Linked DNA regions of Homo sapiens: all the other regions are reported to be linked to region 2. Evidence: microRNA targets listed by miRTarBase, many of them from high-throughput screens and not tested one by one. Region 2 holds a microRNA gene; each other region holds the end of a gene's coding sequence. Distances are from middle to middle.

The links. Region 2 holds the annotated microRNA hsa-miR-6839-5p (UCUGGAUUGAAGAGACGACCCA, at 2,185-2,206, shown strand). A microRNA usually pairs through its seed, bases 2 to 8, with sites in the 3' UTR of a target mRNA and lowers its output. Matches are read on the target gene's strand: a 7mer-m8 pairs with bases 2 to 8, a 7mer-A1 pairs with bases 2 to 7 and ends in A, and an 8mer does both.
Region 1: the mRNA of NCKAP1L is a reported target of hsa-miR-6839-5p. Seed matches in the 3' UTR shown: 7mer-m8 at 978-984, 8mer at 3,585-3,592 and 7mer-m8 at 4,045-4,051.
Region 3: miRTarBase lists IGF2BP3 as a target of hsa-miR-6839-5p. Seed matches in the 3' UTR shown: 7mer-A1 at 6,713-6,719.

Annotation. Positions count from the first base shown.
Region 1 is chr12:54,541,864-54,549,246 of GRCh38, forward strand. It overlaps NCKAP1L (NCK associated protein 1 like), which reads left to right. Exons shown (of 31, transcript NM_005337.5): 31 at 712-6,380. The coding sequence ends at 822. Among named protein-coding and RNA genes, the nearest start is that of PDE1B, 4.0 kb to the right of the region's middle. RefSeq lists an enhancer at 4,596-5,140.
Region 2 is chr7:64,676,885-64,684,267 of GRCh38, forward strand. It overlaps MIR6839 (microRNA 6839), which reads left to right and starts at 2,180; the gene lies at 2,180-2,292. All of the region lies in intron 1 of ZNF107 (zinc finger protein 107), which reads left to right. It also overlaps the pseudogene BNIP3P11.
Region 3 is chr7:23,305,561-23,312,943 of GRCh38, forward strand. It overlaps IGF2BP3 (insulin like growth factor 2 mRNA binding protein 3), which reads right to left. Exons shown (of 15, transcript NM_006547.3): 14 at 7,175-7,288; 15 at 4,649-6,900. The coding sequence ends at 6,802. MALSU1 (mitochondrial assembly of ribosomal large subunit 1) reads left to right here. Exons shown (of 4, transcript NM_138446.2): 3 at 2,308-2,389; 4 at 3,796-6,169. The coding sequence ends at 3,983. Among named protein-coding and RNA genes, the nearest start is that of MALSU1, 9.9 kb to the left of the region's middle. RefSeq lists a silencer at 2,817-3,017.

The sequences.
Region 1 (7,383 bases), not on the chromosome of region 2:
TCAGGGATGGGGACCCTCCAGTCCACCGCTAGGCTATGCTGCTCTTCATGAACATGCCCTGTCCACCCACCTCCCCCTCTTCACCCTCACCCCCACTCTCATTCTTCTCCGGGCATCTTGATCTATCTTCCTGCTTGGCTGTGGGGGCTGCTGGGATTACCGCAGCACACAGGCTTCTAATTAAACTAATTAATCATGCCTGCTCCTTTATGCGGCATCCTTACTGTTCCCCAAGCACTGTACTGAGAGAGGGAGGAGACTGAGGCCCAACACAAGAGGACCCATGTGGATTCCAGGCCCCCTTCCGTGGCCTGCAGTGGTGTTTGTTTCTCTTGCTGCAAAGCTTTGTAATTAGCACTTTTATACATCTTTACCTGCATCTGTGTGCTGCCCACCCACATGTGATTTAGCATCCAGAATGGGAGAGAATGGGTTTTGCTGCACTGGGAAAGTGGTTCTCTCCTGCTGTCTGCTTCTGTGCCCTTCACATAGTCCTGATGAGGGGGTCAGGGTCAATGATAATGGAGCTGAAGATGCCACATTGCCTTCCTGCAGCCAAACCAAGTGAGGGAAGAGGGGGGTGTGATTTGGAACCCTGTTCACTTGTAACTCTCAGGGCCTCAGAGGGCCTGGGAACTATGCAAAAGGAACAGGGTATCACAGACAAATGCCCTACCTGAGGTTCTCATCTCTTGGCCCCATCTCTTTCAGGTGGTGGAGGAGTCATCCTTCCTGACCCTGGACATGCTGGAGTCCTGTTTCCCTTATGTCCTGCTTCGAAATGCCTATCGGGAGGTGTCTCGGGCCTTCCACCTAAACTGAATGCCTGCCAGTACCCACTGAAGAGCCCTTTGGACCTTCCTAAACCCTTGCCATAGTGGAAGCTGTGGTCACTTTCGCAGGGGGTGGGAATGGGGTGGGGTCACTAAGGAGAGAGGGTCAGGAGCCAGAGTTGATGAGCAGATCTGTGGAAGAACAATCCAGGGCTGAGAAATCGTAGAGCAGTGAGGCAGGCTGGGAGCATGGAGGACAGCTTATGGAAAAAGTTAGGGCGTGGGGCCACATGTGTGAATTTTACAATGAAAAAAGGAGTAACGTACAAGTATATTTTCTATCTTCTGGTGACTTGAGCTTGAGCTCTGACAGGCATGGGCCTCTCCGACCTTCATCACTATTCTTAGGATAATGCTGGCGGGCAGAGATGATCAATCATCATATTAAATCATAATGAGCTTATAATCCTCCCACTGGAGCTGCTATTGTCTCCTGCACATTCATTAGGACCATTATCTTCTCTCTTCCTTTTTCAAATGTGTTCAGCAAACATTCAACCTGCTCCTACTGCAGAGTAGCAGCAAAGGAGCCCCTCTTTTCCTTTGTGGGGCTCTTCGAGGGGTCATTGGGTCTCTTCCTTTGCCCCCAGCTTGACTGCGTTTCCTACTGGGGCAAGGAGGAAGTGCCCTTCAGAGATGTTCACTGCCCACCTACTCTACTACATTGTTTGTTACAAGTTCTCTCTTGCTTTAACCCCTCCTGCTTTGATATCTCCACAACCCAGAGCAGAGGGTCAGTTAGTCTCCGTCAATTCTAGGTTACATGACAACTGATTGGCCCAGACTTAGGTGGGTTTTCCCTCCTGTACCATTTGGGGGTACTCTGCCTTTTATTGGGAGGGACTAATTTAACCCCAAATCCTTTTGTCAGCCTGGGTATAGCTGTTGCTCCAGGAAGGGATTTCTCTTCTGGATCTTAAATTTCACAGACCTCATTAGGTTGTATGGCCCTGAGAGTGGGTATCCTTGAGGGAGTACAAGCTGTTTCAACTTAGCCCTTTTCTGCGCTAATTAGAATTTCAAGCGTCACAGAGCCTGGGGGCTTTCAAGATAGCACTAAACTAGGTTTACTTAACTCCTTGGCAGGAAATAGTGGCCCCCATGCATCACTTCTGTGAATCCACTGCCAGGGAGAAGTGGAGAAACAGATCATATATGTCACAGGTCTAGAGTGGTTGGAATTGACAAATATAATTAGCTAGTTGGTTAATTAGGGTCATGTCCATACTTTCATGATGAAAGGGAAGCAGTTGTCGGTTTTCAGCAAAAACGATTCAGCCTTCCTGAAGCCTATTTGATAGCTGTTTTGGGGTTTTGTACATGTGTTTGCTTTTTATTTCTTGAGACCCAGGCTTAGTCAATACTTTCTTAACTTGGCACCCATAATCAACATACAGATTTTTCTTAGCAACAGTTGTCTGCTCTTTAGGGTGGAAGCGATAGAGAATCCTGCTTCGTGCATCAGCAAATCCTCCTTCCTTGCTATGGGAAGGGCTTATGTTCTAAAGGGTGATTCAGTGTCAGGCTTATGAGACTGAGAGTAAAGTTGATGAGGAAGAGGAGGCTCAGAAGTATCTGAACAACTACTCTATATGTTTATATTTTTCTGCTTGAGGGGATAGAGATCCCTCCTCCATCTGCATCTGCATATAGAACTGCTTAAGAGGACAGCAAGACAAGTTGCTGCAGGGGGATGGAGGGTAGACAGAATGCCTTTTTTTAAAACTGAAAATTTTATTGAGATACTTAATCCACCTGCACTTGTAAGAAATCATACAGAGAAATTCTATTTTCCTTTACACAGTTTCCCTGAATGCTAACATCTAGCAAAACTGTAGTACACTGCCACAACCAGGATAACTGACATTGATATAATCTACTGATCTTGTTCAGATTTCCTTCCCCAGTTTTGCTTATGTTCATTTCTCTCTGTGTGTGCACGTGTGTGTGTTATCTATTTCTATACAGCTTTATCATGTGTAGGTTTGTGTATCTGCCACTGCAGTCAACATACAGAACAGGCCGGGCGCAGTGGCTCACGCCTGTAATCCCAGCACTTTGGGAGGCCAAGGCAGGTGGATCACCTGAGGTCAGGGGTTTGAGAGCAGCCTGGCCAATATAGTGAAACACCGTCTCTACTAAAAATACCAAAACTAGCCGGGCGTGGTGGTGCATGCCTGTAGTCCCACTACTCAGGAGGCTGAGGCAGCAGAATAACTTGATCCCGGGAGGCGGAGGTTGCAGTAAGCTAAGATCCTGCCACAGCATTCCAGGCTGAGTGACAGAGCGAGACTCTGTCTCAAAAAATAAATAATAATTTAAAAAAAGATACAGAACAGTTCCATCACCACAAGGATCCCTCGCATTGCTCTTTTATAGCAATTTTATAGCAATTTTCTCCTCCCACAACCCCCTTCCCCATCTCTAGCTCCTGGTAACACAGATATATTCTCTATTTCTAAAATTTTGTCATTTGATATATCTTTTTGTAAACATATAATTATACACACATATTTCTCTACCACTTATACTTTTTCAAAGTGCTTTCACATCCTTATAGCAATTCTGCAAGGTAGCCAGGGAAGGCTTTCCTATTTCAGGTCAGAAAACAGATTTAGAAATATTAAATGACTTAATGAAGGTCACATGTTTAGCAGTAGAACTAGAACTGGGACCCAAGTCTGATGTTCAGTCCTAGACCTTTTCTACTTGCCCGGTCTGCCTCTTCACAAGGGAAGACTTGGGTTTTAGAATCCAGAGACCTTAGAAGGAGCAAATTGGAGAAGGTGAGGACATGATGGCCTTTACTACCGGAAGCAAAAAGTGAATGTCCAGAGGTGAAGGGACAGAGAAGTAACAGGACCCATCAGCATTTCAGGCAATTTGCTTCCTTTACCAGGAGGGTCTCTGTCCTCTTACAACCTGGGAAAAAATAAGTTGTGTCCCAGGTTGTAAGTTTGCTTTACTTAGGCCCAAAGGAACTAAAGAATGGATATCAGAAATCTCACCCCAATTGTTTTGTCTTACAGGCACAGAATAGGTTCTAGCCTCAGCATTTTCATTAATGTAGTGTTTTTATTAACATCTCCATTAACTTGCTTGCAGCAATGAGATGGAATTATGCCTCCCACAAGGCCTGGGGCAAGATACTTGCATAGGTGCCCCCTTTTGTTTGGACAGTAGAAACACTGCCTCCCCTGCCATGGTGTTCAATCCAGTTGGCAGGTGGGCCAGCTTCAAAGTGCAGAAGGAACTGGGTGTGGTGGCTCACCCCTGTAATCCCAGCACTTTGGGAGGCAGGCGGATCGCTTGAACTCAGGAGTTTGAGACCACTCTGGGCAACACAGTGAAACCCTGTCTCTCCAAAAATACAAAAAATTAGCTGGGCATGGTGGCTGTTGTCTGTAATCCCAACACTTTGGGAGGCTGAGGCCAGTGGATCTCTTGAGCTAAGGAGGTTAAGACCAGCCTGGTCAACATGGCGAACTCCGTCTCTACAAAAAAATACGAAAATTAGCTGGGCGTAGTAGTTCCTGCCTGTAGTCCTAGCTACTTGGAAGGCTGAGGTGGGGAGGATCGCTTGAGTCCGGGAGGCAGAGGTTGCAGTGAGCGAAGATGATGCCATTGCACTCCAGTCTGGGTGACAGAGCAAGATCCTGTCTCACAAAAAAAAAAAAAAAAAAAAATGCAGAAGGTCCAGGGCCTGGCCAAGGGGATGATGCCCTGTAGCACTTTGCTTTGCAGGAAGGGAACAACTGTGCTGTGAATACCAGGATCCAGGAGGGAGGGAGGGTATATCTGTGTCCCCCAGCTAGGGACAAGGCTTCCTTAACCTTAGGTCCTCATGCTTATATTAGTTCTTCTCCAACAAAGTTTGACTTTGAGAAGAAGCTGGCACATGGCTGAAATGCACTCACGCGGTTGGGGGAAGAGTGTTCTTCCAGTCCTCCTCCCCACAGGGCCTCCTGCTTCTCCTAAGTACCTGTCATCAAAGGAGATGAAGATGAATCCCCCTTCAGCCCCCACACCTCAATGAGTTGTCAAGTACTCTCCCTCCCACTTGAATAGGAAGCAGGAGCAGCAGGCCAGGTTGCAGGTTGAGGAAGTCAGAAGTTAACTTGAGCTGAGTTTGCAGCTCTGGAGAGATTGAGGAGCAGACTTTTCTCTTGTCACTTTGGAAGGAGAGGATTGTGAGGCTGCCCCTTTAAATAGCATTCCCGTAGGAGGCAGATCACATCCATCCGTCACCTACTGCCAAAGCATCATTTTTGGTTTCTATCAAACTCAAAGCTTGTTGGAAAGGATTGTGGGGTTAGGGGAGTGAGGAGGCAGAGCCTCCTAGGGGTAGGGGGCAGTTTAGAAGCTGAAAAGGAGAGGAATGAGAAGGAGCCTGGGAAAGGTGGGGGATGAGGACAAGAGGAAAAGACAGGGAGAGAATAGTTGTCTTTTGAGCCTCAGAGTGGAACAAGTATACCCAATTCTTATCTGTTTAGAGACGCAGCAAGGTAGAAATGGGATTGTATTGCAACAAGAGGAATGAGGTTGAGACTAAACACCAGGACTGGTGACTAAAGAAAGTGAAAGGAGCCACAGAGTGAAAAAGGCTGATAGACTTGGCTCTGGTTTTATCACTTACTCTCTGTGAGACCCTATAATTTTTCTGGGTTAGTTTAGTTCTCATTTATTTTTATTTTTACTTTTTCCATCAAACTGTGTTGTCTATGAAGTTTTCCCATTTATTAAATGAAGGGAATTAGAGTGGATGAACTCTAATGTCTCTTTCACGAATAACTTTGTGTGTGTGTGCGTGTGTGTGTGTGTGTGTGTGTGTGTGTGTGAATTAGCCTTAAAATGAATCAGGAGCAGGGGGTCTTGGGAGAGCAGGATGTGACACTGTGTTAACAAGAAATGTTGAGAGAGCCCTCTGGATGTATGTCTTGCCTCTTTCCCACCTATTCTAGTTTAAAGACCTGCCTAAATTTGGAAACTCCTTAGCTCTAATCCTAATTTACTAATTAGAGCTCTTTAGCACCATCCTAATTTGCAATTCTTTTGTAGTTTCCAGCCCATTTCATTTTCAGTTGATAAGGAGGAGATTGCTCCCAAATTTTCAGAAATGGACTGTGTAGGAGTGTGACTAGGGTCTCAGATGCAGCCATTTCTTGGCTGGGTCTGGGGAAAAGCCAAGGGATGTGTGCTAAAGGTAGATGGACAGAGGGTGGGAAGTCCCTTATTATTTCCACTTTTTTCTCCATCTCTGACTCTGCCATCTCTTTCTGCCTCTGTACTTTCTGGGAGCTGGTTCTGCTGATACTTCTGCTGAATCTAAATGCTGACCTAACTTGGCAATTCTTTTATGTTAGGAGTCTTAGCTGTGACAGTTCATCCGCTTCTTCGCCCTTCCATTTCACTTCTTTTCTCCTTCTCTGACTGGGAGAGGAGGAGCCTCCACTCAGTATTTAGAACAGAGTAAATACCTTCTCCTGATCACTCCTCCTTCCAACCTCCAGAATTTTTTGAAATTAAAATTCACATTCTGGGATCCTGGATTAGTGGCCTGTTTTGGATTCAGTAGTTAGTGAATATATCTCCACTTTCTGTTGACATAGGAGTTTCCCCAATGCCAAAGCAGGTGGTCATTAAGGGAGAGAACAATATGGAGCAAGAGAGGTGGTTCCTGCAAGAGTCCTAGGTAGGACTCGGTTGGATGGAGGAGGCTTTGCCCTTTTACAAGGTCTTGAGTTCAAATTCCAGTTCACTCCTTCCACAAATGTTTATTAACCAGCTAGGCTGTTTTGTGCTGGGCCTTTAGCTCCTAGATTTCTTTCTCTGAAGACAGAACAGAAAAAATGAGCTGGAAGTGCTTCAGGAGGGGTTTTGATATCAGGAATGCTTTCCTGGCTGTGTAGAGTTATTACCTAGTCAAAGAAGAAGATGTTAAGCTGGGTGCGGTGGCTCACACCTGTAATCCCACCACTTTGGGAGGCCGACGTGGGCGGATCACGAGGTCAGGAGTTGGAGACCAGCCTGGCCAATATAGTGAAACCCCATCTCTACTAAAAAATACAAAAATTAGCCGGCGTGGTGGCCCGCGCCTGTAGTCCCAGCTACTCCAGGAGGCTGAGGCAGGAGAATCGCTGGAACTGGGGAGGCAGAGGTTGCAGTGAGCCGAGATCGCGCCACTGCACTGCAGCCTGGGCGACACAGACTCCTTCTCAAAAAAAAAAAAAAAAAAAAAAAAAAAAAAAAAGATGCCTGCTCTGGAGAGCTTTGAACTTGGAAGAAATTCCTATCTGCTAGGCGGGCAGGCAGAAGTACCATGGAGAAGGCCACAGTCTTGGAGACAGGTGGGGAAGATCAAGCTGAGGGACCCGAGGCCAAGTGTGGGATGCCATCACAGCTCAGGGCACACCCTGAACTTTTCCAAGACAGGAGCACAGGTGGGGTCTGGTCCGACTGGGTTCCGAGTCCAGATCTAGCAGGGAAAGATGTGTGCTCATCCCCTACCCCGCACTCAGACATGGGACACGCAGGCAGCTAGGCACACGTG
Region 2 (7,383 bases):
CTGCATTTTTCTTCTGCCCTATTTGTCTGTGTCATCTTATGTTAAAAAAAATGCAGATTCACTGAGCCAGACAAAGGCATGAATGACTGTATTTTTCTATCCTCTTCTTACATGAAAATTGTATACTTACCAACATCCCACCCTTTTCCTTTTAAATATGAAGTCCTCAAAATGATCTTAGAAGAAAGACATAGACTTGTCTCCAGGGCACACCTCCTTAACTTTGGCAAAAAACCTCCTAAAATGATTGAGATTTGTCTTGTCATTTTTCTGGATTAACATACCCATGGATTTTTTTTTTTTTGAGATGGAGTTTCACTCTTGTTGCCCAGGCTGGAGTGCAGTGGCATGATTTTGGCTCACTGCAACCTCCATCTCCCAGGTTCAAGCCATTCACCTGCCTCAGCTTCCCAAGTAGCTGGGATTACAGGCATGCATCACCATGCCTGGCAAATTTTTGTATTTTTAGTAGAGACGGGGTTTTGCCATGTTGGTCAGGCTGGTCTCGAACTCATGACCTTAGGTGATCCACCCGCCTTGGCCTCTCAAAGTGCTGGGATTACAGGCATGAGCCACCGCACCTCGCCGGATTTTTTTTTTTATAACACCTTTCTCTCTTCTATTTTTTTTTCTGATAACATTCTTTCAGTTGCATACAGTGTGCAAAATTAAGATGTCCAAGAGTTCGGCTAGGCGTGGTGGCTCACGCCTGTAATCCCAGCACTTTGGGAGGCCGAGGCGGGCGGATCATGAGATCAGGAGATCGAGACCATCCTGGCTAACACGGTGAAACCCTGTCTCTACTAAAAATACAAAAATTAGATGGGCGTGGTAGTGGGTGCCTATAGACCCAGCTACTTGGGAGGCTGAGGCAGGAGAATGGTGTGAACCCGCAAGGCGGGGCTTGCAGTGAGCCAAGATCAAGCCACTGCACTCCAGCCTGGGCGACAGAGCAAGACTCTGTCTCAAAAAAAAAAAAAAAAAAAAAAAGGATGTCCAGGAGTTCAAAAACATGTCCAGAGACCTGTCTGTTGTAGGAGAAAATAAAAATTAGAAATAAGAGGCTTTATTCTCCTATGTGAAAAATAAGGGAGGATATTTTGCTAATCTCTTTTTTCTTAAAGGATTTAAATTATACATAGATTTTTGTCTTTGTTGTTTTGAACGATACATAAATTATATTAACAGCTAAATAAATTTTTGGTCATTGTTCTTGATTTGGGATTGTCTTTATCTGAGACCTCAGGTTTATTGCTTTGTTTTTGCTTTGGCAAATTTTTTAAAATTTTTTAATCTTTTAAAGTAGACACAGATTTGTTTAAATCAAAACTCATTTTAAGAGCACACAAAAGTTGAGCACAAAGATAGTATTAAATTTAGCAGTACTGAATAATGAGGACTAAAAAATGCTGAGTAAATTCCTTTGACAGAAAATGGATTATCCAACGTAATTATCTAATATTTGCAGGCTAAAATACTTCCATTGCAAAAGCGAGGTTCAGTGTATGAACCGAACAGTGGAGTATGTAGTTGTTCTTTGGTTTCTATTTATTACTTCAGAACAATTAGCATAGTTAGGTGTAGCATTTGTAGACAAACTGCATTCATATCAATTGAACAGTATTTTCTACACTAGTATAAATGTAAGGCCACAATATTTACTTTGAATGAATCCCTTAGTCATTTTAGTATTGTTATTCATACTTTCAAAACATAAAGTGTTTTAATTGAATTATGGTTACAGACAATATTTTAAAATCCTACATACATTATGACTAGTACACTAAAATTATTTATACTTAGGTATTTTATCCAATGTGAAAGAAAATTTACTACCAAATTATTATAGTAGATATTAGTATGATATGCTTACTAGTTTATTCAATAGAGATAATATTAGGGAAGCATGATTTTAGTGTCTTTTATTTCACTAAATTGGAATGCTGCTATTACAAGACAAATAAGGGTGATGTGGCCACTCAAAAACCATAATAGCTCTTCACTTAGCCATGATGCAAGCTCAAATATATTCCACTATATTAACAAAGTCATATTCCAATTGTTCATCAAAATGTTTTGGTGGAAATTGTCAGGCATATTCCAGTATAGATCTCCCATTCAATGGCTAGAAGATAAGAGAGCAGCAGAGATGAAAGAGGAACCTTACTTTGTGTTATGGTGTAGTCTGGATTGAAGAGACGACCCAAGCAGGCTTTGTGTGAGCAGTGAGGCTATTTATTCACTTGGGTGCGAGCTCACACGAAGCCTGCTTGGGTTTTCTCTTCAATCCAGACTGTGCCATAACACACATTTGATGCTGAAATCCGGGATAGGGGAACTCCTTTGGGAGTCGTGTCCCTTAACCCCTTCCCCCGACTTCTTGAAGAGACCCACCCGCGACCTCGGTACCTCGGACCAGCTCTGTAAAAGCCCCGCCTCTGCCTTCGGATAGGTAAGAGACCTCCATCCTTTCTCAAACTTTCCTTTTCTTAGAGAGGAGAGGACACTCACTGTCTGTGTTTCCTAAATCTAACATTGGTCATGGATTATCTCTGGGAAGACAGGCTTCCCTAGGTGACTGGTCAACCACAGGGACATGTGCCTTGGCCACTCATCCACTGCACAACCCAGATGGGGACACCTGCTGAAGGTCCTTGTGGTTGCTCTCCTCCTCGTTTCTCTCTCCCTGTCTCTCTGTTTCTTCAGTCCTCCGCTGTTCATTATGGGCACCCTTCCACCCTCCATTCCTCCTCCTTGTCCTTTGGACTGTGTCCTTAGGAATCTAAAACCGCTCCGTCTTTCACCTGATTTGGAACCTAAACATCTCATTTTCTTCTGTAATATGGCCTGGCCCCAATATAAATTAGACAGTGGCTCTCAGTGGCCAGAAAATGGCACTTTCAATTTCTCTATTTTGTGGGACTTAGACAACTTTTGTCACAAAATGGGCAAATGGTTTGAGGTTCCATACATCCAGGCATGTTTTACACTTCGGTCCCTCCCCAGCCCTTGTTCCCAATGCAATTTGTCTCAAATTCTCCTTCTGTCCCGCCCATCTGCTCCCCTACCACCCTCTGGCGACAGCGAGTCCTTCTTGTCCACAGACCCTTCCGATATTTCTCCTCCCTGCCCGTCCGACTCCGGTCCCAACCCTTCTCCAGACCCCAGTCCCCCTTCTACCCATACCATGCCTCCCTATATCCCTTCTGTCCCTACTCTGCCCCATACCCGAACTGGCTGACAATTTGGTCCCACTTCTAATCCCCCTCCTCCCACCCCACTATTTCCCCTTTGAGAGGTGGCTGGAGCTGAAGGGATAGTCCGAGTTCATGTTTCTTTCTCCCTGTCTGACCTGTCTCAGGTCAGCCAGTGTTTAGGTTCTTTTCCATAAGACTCCACTAAATATATCCAGGAATTTCAATATTTAACTCAGTCTTATAACCTCACCTGGAGTGACTTAAATGTCATCCTCACTTCTACACTCACTCCTGAAGAATGGGAGGGTGTTTGGGCCCTAGCTCAGTCCTATGCAGGTGACCACTGGCGCCTTGAGCCAGGTCTCCAGGGAGGTCCCCCGTGAGGACCCCCAGTGGAACTATCAAACAGGATCTCCTGGTATGGCCGGGCGAGATTATATGATCACTTGCTTAGTAGAGGGACTCCAAAAAGCTGCGTATAAGGCTGTCAATTATGATAAGTTAAAAGAAATCACTCAGGGCAAGGACGAAAATCCAGCCCAGTTTGTGGCCCATCTGGCCATAAATCCAGCTTTAGACCCTGAAGGGCCAGGGGCCAGAAGGCCGACTCATGCATTTTATTACCCAGTCAGCTCCCGACATTAGAAAAAAACTTCAAAAATTAGAGTCTGGCCCTCAAACCCCACAACAGGATTTAATTAACCTTGCCTTTAAGGTGTTCAGTAACAGGGAAGAGGCTACCTGGTGGCAGCGTGTTTCTGAATTACAGATGCTTGCCTCCGCCGTAAGACGAACCCCAGCCACACCAATGGCCTGTAGGGATTTCAAGGCATCCAGACCGCAGCGCCCAGCAGCCCCTCCAGGGCCATGCTTCAAGTGCCATAAAAATAGTCACTGGGCCAAGGAATGCCTGCAGCCTGGGGTTCCTCCTAAGCCATGCCCTGTTTGTGCAGGCCCTCACTGGAAGTCAGACTGTCCAACTCAAGCTGCCATCCCTAGAGCTCCTGGAGCTTAACCCCACAGCCCCCTGGCTGACTCCTTCTCTGATCTCCTCGGCTTGGCGGCTGAGGAATGACACTGCCCGAACACCTCGGAGGCCCCATGGACCATCATGGACCTCGGGTAACTCTTAAGGTGGAGGGTAAGTCCATCCCCTTTTTGATCGATATGGGGGCCACTCACTCCACCCTGCCCTCCTTTCAGGGACCTGTCTCCCTAGCCTCCATGACTGTTGTGGGAATTGACGGCAAAGCCTCCAGACCTCTCCAGACTCCACTTGTGTGTCAACTAGATCAGCACTCCTTTTTGCACTCCTTTTAGTCATCCCCACTTGTCCAGTCCCTCTCCTCGGCTGAGGCATCCTAACAAAACTGTCTGCCTCCCTCACTATTCCTAGGCTACAGCCACACCTCCTTGCCACCCTTCTCCCCAACCCTTCACCATCCCCACAAGCTCCTCTAACGTCTCCCTTCCTCAACCCCAGGGTCTGGGATATCATCTCTCCCTCCCTTGCTACAGATCACTCCCCCCTTATCATCCCTTTAAGGCCAAACCATCCTTACCCTGCCCAATGCCAGTATCCTATCCCTATGCCACCCCTAAAAGGCCTAAAGCCTTTTTACCCACTTTTTACAACATGGCCTCTTAGTACCCATTAACTCTCCCATCCTTCCCTTTCAAAAACCAGACAAGTCCTACATATTAGTTCAAGACCTTCGTCTCATCAATCAGATTGTACTTTTCATCCATTCTATAGTGCCAAACCCATATACTCTCTTGTCCAGAATACCTCCCACCACTACCTATTATTCCGTTCTCAGCCTAAAAGATGCCTTCTACACCATTCCCCTACATCCCTCCTCTCAACCTCTTTTTGCCTTCACCTGGACTGACGCTGACACCCATCAGTCCCAACAACTAACCTGGACCATTCTTCCCAGGGCTTCCGGAATAGCCCTCATTATTTTAGCCAAGCCCTTGCCTGCGACCTACTCTCTTTTCAGCCTTCCTTTTCCTACCTCATCCAGTATGTCGATGATCTCTGCAGTCTCTCCTAGGAATCCTCCCAACAGAATATCCTCCTACTCCTTCAGCATTTAGACTCTAAAGGGTACCGAATGTCCCCTTCTAAAGCTCAAATTTCTTCCCCTTCTGTTATTTGTCTCAGCATAATTCTCCATCAGCACACCCGCACTCCCCCCGCTGACCGTATTCACCTAATCTCCTAGACCCCAGTCCCTTCAAAAACAGCAGCTTCTCTCCTTCCTAGGCATCATTGGGTACTTCCACCTCTAGGTACCTGGTTTTGCCCTCTTAACAAAACCCCTTTATAAGCTTACAAAAGGCAACCTAGCTGACCCCATAGACCCCAAACCTTCCCTCATTCATCCTTTCACTCCCTGAAAAAAGCTCTTGAGACAGCCTCCTCACTGGCGTTCCTCGACTCCACCCAGCCCTTCTCTCTACATGGCAGAGGTAAAGGGATGTGCAGTTGGGGTCCTAACACAAGGGCCAGGCCCACGACCAGTGGCCTACTTATCTAAACTTGACCTCACAGTCCTAGGCTGGCTGCCCTGTTTACATGCTGCAGCGGCCACTGCCCTAATACTCCTAGAATCCCTCAAAATCACTGGTTACACCCCAGTTACCCTCTATAGCGCTCACAACCTCCAGAGTCTCATTTCTTCCTCTCACCTCACACAACTACTCTCCTCCCATCTCCTCCAGCTTTATTCACTCTTTATTTTAAACCCCATGCTAACCATTGCTCTTGGACCCAGTTTCAACCCAGCCTTTCACTTAGCACCCAACACATGTCCTGAGCCACATGACTGCATCTCCTTAATACACATGGCATCCTCCCCCTCTCCTCACATTTCTGTTTTTCCAGTCCCAAACCCAGATCACACTTGGTTTATTGATGGTAGTTCTTCAAGACCCAACCAATTTTCGCCAGCCAAGGCAGGTTATGCTATTTGTTGTGTCCCACACATCTGTTATCGAGGCTGCTGCACTTCCACCCTCCACCACCTCTCAGCAAGCTGAACTAATTGCTTTAACTCACGCTGTCTCTCTCTAAGGGAATGCACGTCAATATTTATACTGATTCCAGGTATGCTTTCCACATCCTTCATCACAGTGCTGCCATCTGGGTGGAAAGAGGTTTTCTAACCACACAAGGGTCTTCCATTATCAATGCCTTTCTCATAAAGGCCCTCCTTAAGGCTGCTCTTCTGCCAGCCAAGGCTGGAGTTGTCCACTGCAGAGGATGCCAAAAACCAACAGACCCTATCACTAAAGGAAATGCCCATGCCAGTAAAACAGCAAAAGAGGTGGCAAACACCTCAGTGTCTGCAGACGTTCCAGTCTCTGCTCCAAAAGACCAGTATATTTCTTTCTCATCTATTATCCCTACCTACTACTCTTCTTCTGAAAACCTGCTCTGCTAGTCCTTTCCAACTCACAAGGCAAGTGGTTCTTAGATCATAGAAAGTTCCTTCTTCCTGCCTCACAAGCGCAATCTATTCTCTTATCCCTCCATGACCGCTTCCATGTAGGATACAAGCCTTTGGCTCGCCTCCTAGAGCCCCTTATTTCTTTCTCATCATGGAAGTCCGTCCTTAAACAATCACTTCTTAATGTTCTGTCTGCCACTCCAAGGTTTTCTTAGGCCCCCTCCTTCCCCAGCACATCAGGCCTGAGGGTTTACTACTACACAAGATTGGCAAATTGACTTCACTCATATGCCTCGTGTCAAAAAATATAAGTACCTCCTAGTTTGGGTTGATACCTTCACCAGATGGGTCGAGGCCTTCCCTACTGGATCTGAAAAGGCTGCAGCAGTTTTTACCTCTCTTCTAACAGATATTGTTACCTGTTTCGGCCTCCCTACTTCCATCCAATCTGACAGTGGTCCAGCCTTCATTAGCCAAATCACCCAGGCAGTTTCCCAGGCCCTTGGCATCCAGTGGAATCTCCACACCCCATACCATCCTCATTCCTCAGGAAAGGTTGAAAGAGCCAACGGCCTCTTAAAAACTCACCCTCCAACTCCGAAAGGACTGGACTGTTCTCCTACCACTTGTGCTTCTCAGGATCTGAGCCACCGCCCATGAACCTACCAGGTATAGCCCATTCGAACTCTTATATGGTAGTACTTTTCTACTGGGGCCCAACCTCATCCCAG
Region 3 (7,383 bases), 41 Mb from region 2:
GAGATGAGGTTTCACCATTTTGGCTAGGCTGGTCTTAAACTCCTAACCTCAGGTGATGCACCCGCCTTGGCCTCCCAAAGGGCTGGGATTACAGGTGTGAGCCACCGTGTCTGGCCCCACATAAAGTTTAGGTTGGATTTTTCTGTTTCTTCAAAAAATATTGTGATCTTGATATAGATTGCACTGAATCTGTAGACTGCATTGGGTAGTATTGGCATCTTTACAATATTGTCTTCCCATCCATGAATATGAAGTATCTTTCCATTTACTGGCATCTGTAAGTTCTTTCAGCAGTGTTTTGTAGTCTTCATTGTACAAGTCTTTTGCTCCTGTGGTTAAGATTATTCTGCTAGGCTGCTCACGGTGGCTGATGTCTGTAATCCTAGCACTTTGGGAGGCCGAGGCAGGCAGATCACCTGAGATCGGGAGTTCAAGACCAGCCGCACCAACATGGAGAAACCCCGTCTCTACTGAAAATACAAAATTAGCCGGGCGTGGTGGCGCATGCCTGTAATCCCGGCTACTTGGGAGGCTGAGGCAGGAGAATCGCTTGAACTTGGGAGGTGGAGGTTGCTGTGAGCCGCGATTGCGCCATTATAGTCCAGCCTGGGCAACAAGAGCGAAACTCAAAACAAGAACGTCTCAATTAAAAAAAAAAAAGTATTATTCTGCTATTGTAAATGGAATTCTAAAAACTTTGTTTCCAGGTTGCTCATTGTTAGTGTATAGAAATACGATGGATTTTTGTGTGCTGAATTTGTTTAGTAGCCCTAACTGGGTTTTTTTTGTGGAATCTTTGGGGTTTTCTACATATGAAGTTGTATTGTCTTCAGAGATAATTTTACTTCCTCCTTTCCAATTTGGGTACCTTTTTTTTTTTTATTGACGAATTGCTCTGACTAGAACTTCCAATACTGTGTTGAATAGAAGTAGCAAAAGCAGGCATAGTCTTGTTCCTGATCTTACAGGAAAGCTTTCAGTCTCACCATTGAATATATTAGCTGTGTGCTTTTCTCACATGGCCCTTATTATGTTGAGGTAATTTCCTTTTATGCCCACTTTGTTGAGTGCTTTATTGTGAAAGGGTATTGAATTTTGTTAAATGCTTTTTCTGCGTCAGTTCAGATTATCATATAGATTTTTTCTTCATTCTGTTAATGTGGTGTTATTGCATTGATCCGTTTTTATATGTTGAACCACCTTGCATTCCAGGGATAAATCCCACTTGGTCATGGTCTATAATCCTTTTAATATGGTGCTGAGTTTGGTTTGCTAGTATTTTTGTTGAGGATTTTTGCATCAAATGTTCATCAGGGTTATTGGTCTTATGGAATGAGTTAGGAAGTGTTCCCTGTTCTTCAATTTTTTGGGGAGAATTTGAGTATTGCATTCTTGTTTAAATATTTGGTAAAACTCATCAGGGAAGCCATCTGGTCTAGGACTTTTGTTGGGAGATTTTTGATTACTGATCCAGTCCCCATACTAGTTATGGTCTATTGAAACTTTATATTTCTGCATGATTCAGTCAGTAGATTGTGTTTCTAGAAATTTTGCTATTTCGTCTAGGTTACCCAGTTGTTTGGTGTACAGTTGCTCATAATACTCTTACAATCCCATTTCTCTAAAATCAGTAGTGTCACTTCTTTCATTTCAGATTTTAGTTGTCTTTTTTCTTAGTCATTCTAAGAACCAAATCCTAGTTTCATTGATTTTGTCTTTTTCCTGCCCTAATTATCATTTCCTTTGATTTTGGGGTGATGTATATGAGATGTCCTTTGTCTCTTGTAACAGTTTTTACTTAATTGCCATCTTGTTTGATATTAGTATATCTGTTTTAACAAAAGAACTGAGCACATTTATAGGATGACGGGGTCCCATTAACATGTCATAAAGGCAGATGAGATGAAATCAGTGGCACTGAAACAACCTGGCTTTATAAACAGAAGGTAGTATCTGCAGCCCCTAAAGGTGAAGGAAAGCTGGGATGAACACAAGTGATGGATGTAGGTGGGTACCAAATGCTGACTGAGCTTAGCTTTTTCAGCCTCAGAGGCACCTTGGTGAATGAATGGGGTGACCCTCTCAGAAGGGCTGGGGCAGGAGAATTCAGGAGAGAGGTGAAAGTGAATAAGATTTAGAGGGAGAAATAGTTTCCCTAAGTTATTCATCACAGGGCAAAGTATAGCAATGAGAAATGAGTAAGAAAGATTAAAAAAAACAAACAAACAAACAAAAAAAAAAGACCTTCAGCAAGAACAGGCTTCCCCCATCCCCTCTCCCTTTAATAAACCACCTGGCTTTTTGCAGTACAAACACCTGAAATGTAAACGTGACCCTCATGTTAAGATAGAAGGGAAGGACACTGATGACTGGCTGTGCGTGGATTTTGGTAAGTTATTCTGGCGTATTTTACAGGTAACTGTTGGTACTACGCTAATCTTGAATTGTTTTCAGTTGCAAAAGGATTGAGATCAAATTGATGAATGTATTTCCAGGTAAGATTTTTGAAGTGTGTTTAAGGTAACAAAAGTTTTTTTAGTTATAATCCAGGTGGTCTTATTCACATGTAGAATTTTCACCTAACCAAACCAAAGTACCCTAGATGATGCCCTCCTGGAGGAAGATATATACTACATGGTGTGTATCTACTAGCCACACAGATCAGGAAGGTGGTGGACAACAGGATAACATAGTAGAGGCGGGAGAGATTCCTTAGTAGTGGTAGAGGAAGGTTTGGGGGCTGTGGTGCATAAATGAGATGAGGATGAGGTTATTCCAGGCACAAAAAAGGACAAGAGCAGAAGACTAGAATTTTGAAAAGATCTAACAACTTTGGGTATTAATGTGTACATAGTTTCAAAGCACCTCCCAACAAGATAATATTTACAAAGGGGAAACATAACTGTATGTCAAGAACTGAGGAGTCTGAGATTTTATTCTGCTTGTAAGCTAATACATTGTCCCGCCAGTTTTCATGGACACTGGTAAAAGACAAGACTATTAGAGGGTTAGAGACAAAGAACAGTTTATTACTCACAGCAGTAGCCAGCATCCATTTTGCACTGGTTTCCTGAGCTCTGGATTCCATAGGGCAACATGGGCCAGATGACACCAGCACACACAGTTGTAAAACTGGAACTCAGATGAGGGTGTCTAGGTTTTTTATAACTGGCAGGAAGCAGGCCTACTTTTGCTCTGATGGTTTCTCACTTTTGTCGCTATTAACGTTTTGGACCAGGTAATTTTGCATGTGGGGGAGGGGTGTCTCTTGTGCACGGTACGATGTTTAGCAGTATCCTCCCTTCTCCAATTGTGACAATCAAAAATGACTCTAAACATTACCATTATTACCTAATTGAGAAATGCTGCTGTAAGCAAAGCTGCCCTTTGCCCTGGAGGGAGGCAGTATCTTTCTGTTAAGAATATTCACGATACAAACATTCTTGGATAGTCAAAACAAAAGGCAGTCAGTGTTTTTGCACAAAAGATGTGCAGAAGTGTGTTACCCATGGAGAATTGTCACCGAAGAGAATCCTGACACCATTAGTCTCTTTGATAAAGTTACTATCACCAGCAATGTTATATATTGACATATGCCTCCTGTAGGTACACTGAGAAAGGCATAGCATCACTTCTGTGGTATTTTTGCTGGGATGGAGTCCACAGTGATGCTAATCTGGGAACCACACTTGAGAACCACTGCTTTATTCCTAGAGTTAGCCAGTGTGTGTTGTAAGGTAAGAATAAAAGCAAATGAACTATTCCTTCATTGTATCTCTTATCTGTCCCTGACAGGCAGCATGGTGATTCATTTGATGCTTCCAGAAACCAGAGAAATCTATGAATTAGAGAAATTATGGACCCTACGTTCTTATGATGACCAGTTAGCTCAGATAGCACCTGAGACAGTACCTGAAGACTTCATTCTTGGAATAGAAGATGATACTTCATCTGTGACTCCAGTGGAGTTAAAATGTGAATAAAATATTTTATGCACTGCGTTAGTCATTTCAGATTTGGATTGAGTCACTTATTGGAAAATACAGCTCCTAAAGTCCGTCTCCTTGGTTAGGCTGCTCTTAGGACAAGGCTTGTGTACCTCATGGGCACTCCTGCTAACTGGCATGCAGAGACTGTCGATAAGTGAGCTATACCTGCAACCAAAAATCAGTACATTCTACCCAAAACTTATGACACGCTGCCTTTATCCTGGAAATGTCATCAGAATTTCCTGGAGTTAGCACTGGCTCCTGTGCTTGACTTCTCTGCTCAGATTTTTATTAATTTAATTTAGCTTAAATGTAAATCTTAACCCTGTTTGTTTAATGGAATGGCAAAAATTTTAAAAAATAATATAAAACATAGCCCACTGGTCTTATTTTTATACTTTGAGGTGATAATATTCTTCTAGGAGGACTTCTGTAACCCTTCCAGAATACTCCAGTAACACAAGAAAGTAAACAAAGTGTTTGTTAGGAAAAACTCTGAACGCTCTAGTTCTTAGTTCATATGCAAGAGTATTATCAAGGTTCACATTAAGTACCATGGCTGGACATGGTATAACAGAAATCTGCGTAGAGTTTGAAAAAAAATTCAGAACATTCCCATTCAATTGAAAACCAAAAATAAAACATACTACACAACAAGCTGCACCTAAATGATGAAAAAATTTATTCTGCGTCAAGGTATCTGGAAAATGAAGCTGCATTTGGGGCACATTATACATGAGGAATGATCCATATATGGTGAGTACAAAACTCAATTATAGAATTATTTCTTAGCTAGTACCAGATACTCCAAATTACAAATGCTTAAGTAAAAGTAAAATATGATTTGCCATACTAAAAGGCTAGAAGTGAAATATGACAGAATTTAAACCAGCAGATATAAATGCAGCACCTATGTGTATATTTTTAAAAAATCAAATATTGGGGAAAAAAATCAAATACTGAGAAAAGCTCTGGCCTTAAACACATCTTACCTGAAATCCAACCAGAAAGCCAGTCCATGATTTTAGCAATTTTAATTCATTGTATGAAAAAAAAATCATGAATGCTAGGAGAATCCAGTGACAAAAAGGGCACTTTTTTGGTTAAAACTACAAAAGAAACTTGTTTTCAGAGAACATTAAGGAAAACACTTTAAATCATTTTCAAAATGTCTAATTGATCTTCAGAAAAACATCTAGTCTGTATAGAAATTCATCTTGAAATAAGAATGAGGCAGTGATTTTTTTTTTAAAGGGTTATATATATGTCCTTTAGATCAGTGTAACATGACTGTGATCATCTTACAAACAAAACTCAAAAAATCAATTCAGAGAGCAGCGTGGCCTTGGAGACCACCCACACCCAACACAATTGTACGTACTGGGCTTTGCTGTCAAGGAGTGAGCAAATGAGTTCGTTATCAAAGGTCATATGTTTTCACAGTCATTCAAATTATATCCCAAAAACTTTTCTTGTATTCTCTATCTTTTGACTTTTTTTTCAAAGAACTGATTGCACAGTATACAGAAATCCTGTTATACTTTACTACTTAAGGTGGAGTCTAATTTTTTTTTTTTAATTTATCAGTGCTTAAAAATCTTCAAAATAGCTTAGTGAGGCTCATGACAGTGCTGGCCCCATGGAAATGTAGCCTTTTGTTGCGTTTAAACACTGTCACACCATCTATGACTGTCCCATTGGTCTGAAGTGTAGTGGCAAACTAAGCATCCTATAAGACAAGCTAAAGCTTGCTTTTTGCCAGTCAGTTGAAAGTCTTGCATCTCTTCACTGATGCACTTTCTTTAGGTATTGATAGTCAGAAGCACAAAGCATTTATTATGCATTCAATCATGTAGCTAAACAAAAAACTGAAGTCTCCTGAAGCCATTTAAACCAGCCGTTCCAAAATCTCCTGCGACCACTTTGTTAGTACCGTCAAAAACTTTCCCAACTATAAATGAAAGAATAAATGGTAGTGCTGCTCTCCAGATACTAGGCACTGCTCCGTATTTTTGAACATTTGATTTAACTAATAACTGTGTCAAAAGCCTCAAAAAACCCTGAAATTAATTTTCCAGCTTTACTGTCACCAGCCAGAAGTAAAAATCTTAATTTGCCTGTTAGCTGATTGCTGTTAAATTTTAAATTTATTTTTTAAAAAACGGTTGGACTTCTATCATTATAAAGTATATAAAATTTTCAAAAAAAAGGAACAATTTTGCTTTTCATTGTATTACTGAATACCTGAGGTAGTTGAGTAAAAATGCACGTTTAATACCCCTGCCAACACCATTCAGCACTTCCCTTAGGTTACTCATGTTAGTGTTAGGTAAAAATAAAACTGAGAACAGTTTTTCTATGCTAATGGCTTAACATTTAAGTTCCTGTGATAATTATTCTGATCCAATTTTAACAATTGGATTTAGGAGCAATCTATTTGATGAATTTAGTGAAAGCATCATTAAGCCAATTTCTGGCATTATGGGGGAATATTAAGAAGAATTAGAATATCTGTTATACTGTGAGACTACAACAAAGGGAAGTGCAGAGCTCTTCTCTTTCCCTCCCTCCCCCACCCTTTTTTTGTTTGTTTGTTTGTTTGTTTTAAAGCTGGGTGTCATACATTTCAGAGAGCATAAAGTATACATTCTCACAGAGACAGGAGTTCAAAAGTTGCCTGGTCCTCAGAAACAACTGGCTAGGTAAAAACTTGTGCATGTGATTCTGGATAGGGGGTCAGCGCCCATCTGTTGGTTAAGCAATCTGTCTTTGGTTTGGCATCTGCCTCTGTGGTGGGCTGTTTCCTGAGCCTTTACTTCCGTCTTGACTGAGGTGGTCCACTTTGCAGAGCCTTCTGTTGTTGGTGCTGCTTTACCTGAGTCAGAATTTCCTGAATTTTTCTCTGGGCAACCTAGAAAAGGACAGAGCTTTGAAATTCCACTTGATCAAAAGCTACTAAAAGTTATTGTACTCCTTCATTTCAACAATTTCAAATAGAAATCCATTTGATGATTAAAGATACATACTAGTCAGTTTGCTAGTAGTCTCTGAAATCACCCGCTAAAAGGGAGATGAAAAGTCTTAAGCATCAAACAACCTTAACTAATTCTATCAGGTAGGAGCACCTGTGGGAGAATTGCTTCCACGTGAGAAAGATACAATAGCTTATTTTAGAGCCCACTTGCCTGGCAAGCATAGAAGTGACCAGTTATTTTGACAACCACTTGGTCATTCTCATCAGGTGTCTGGTCACGAGGGACAACAACTTCTGCACTTGACAAATTCTGAAGTTCATTCACCTGAAAGAGATAAATATAAATCACATTAAGTGGCAGTTTTAAAACCTTACTTCCTAAGCACTTACTGTGCGCCAGACAGTGAGCTATGTATGGCT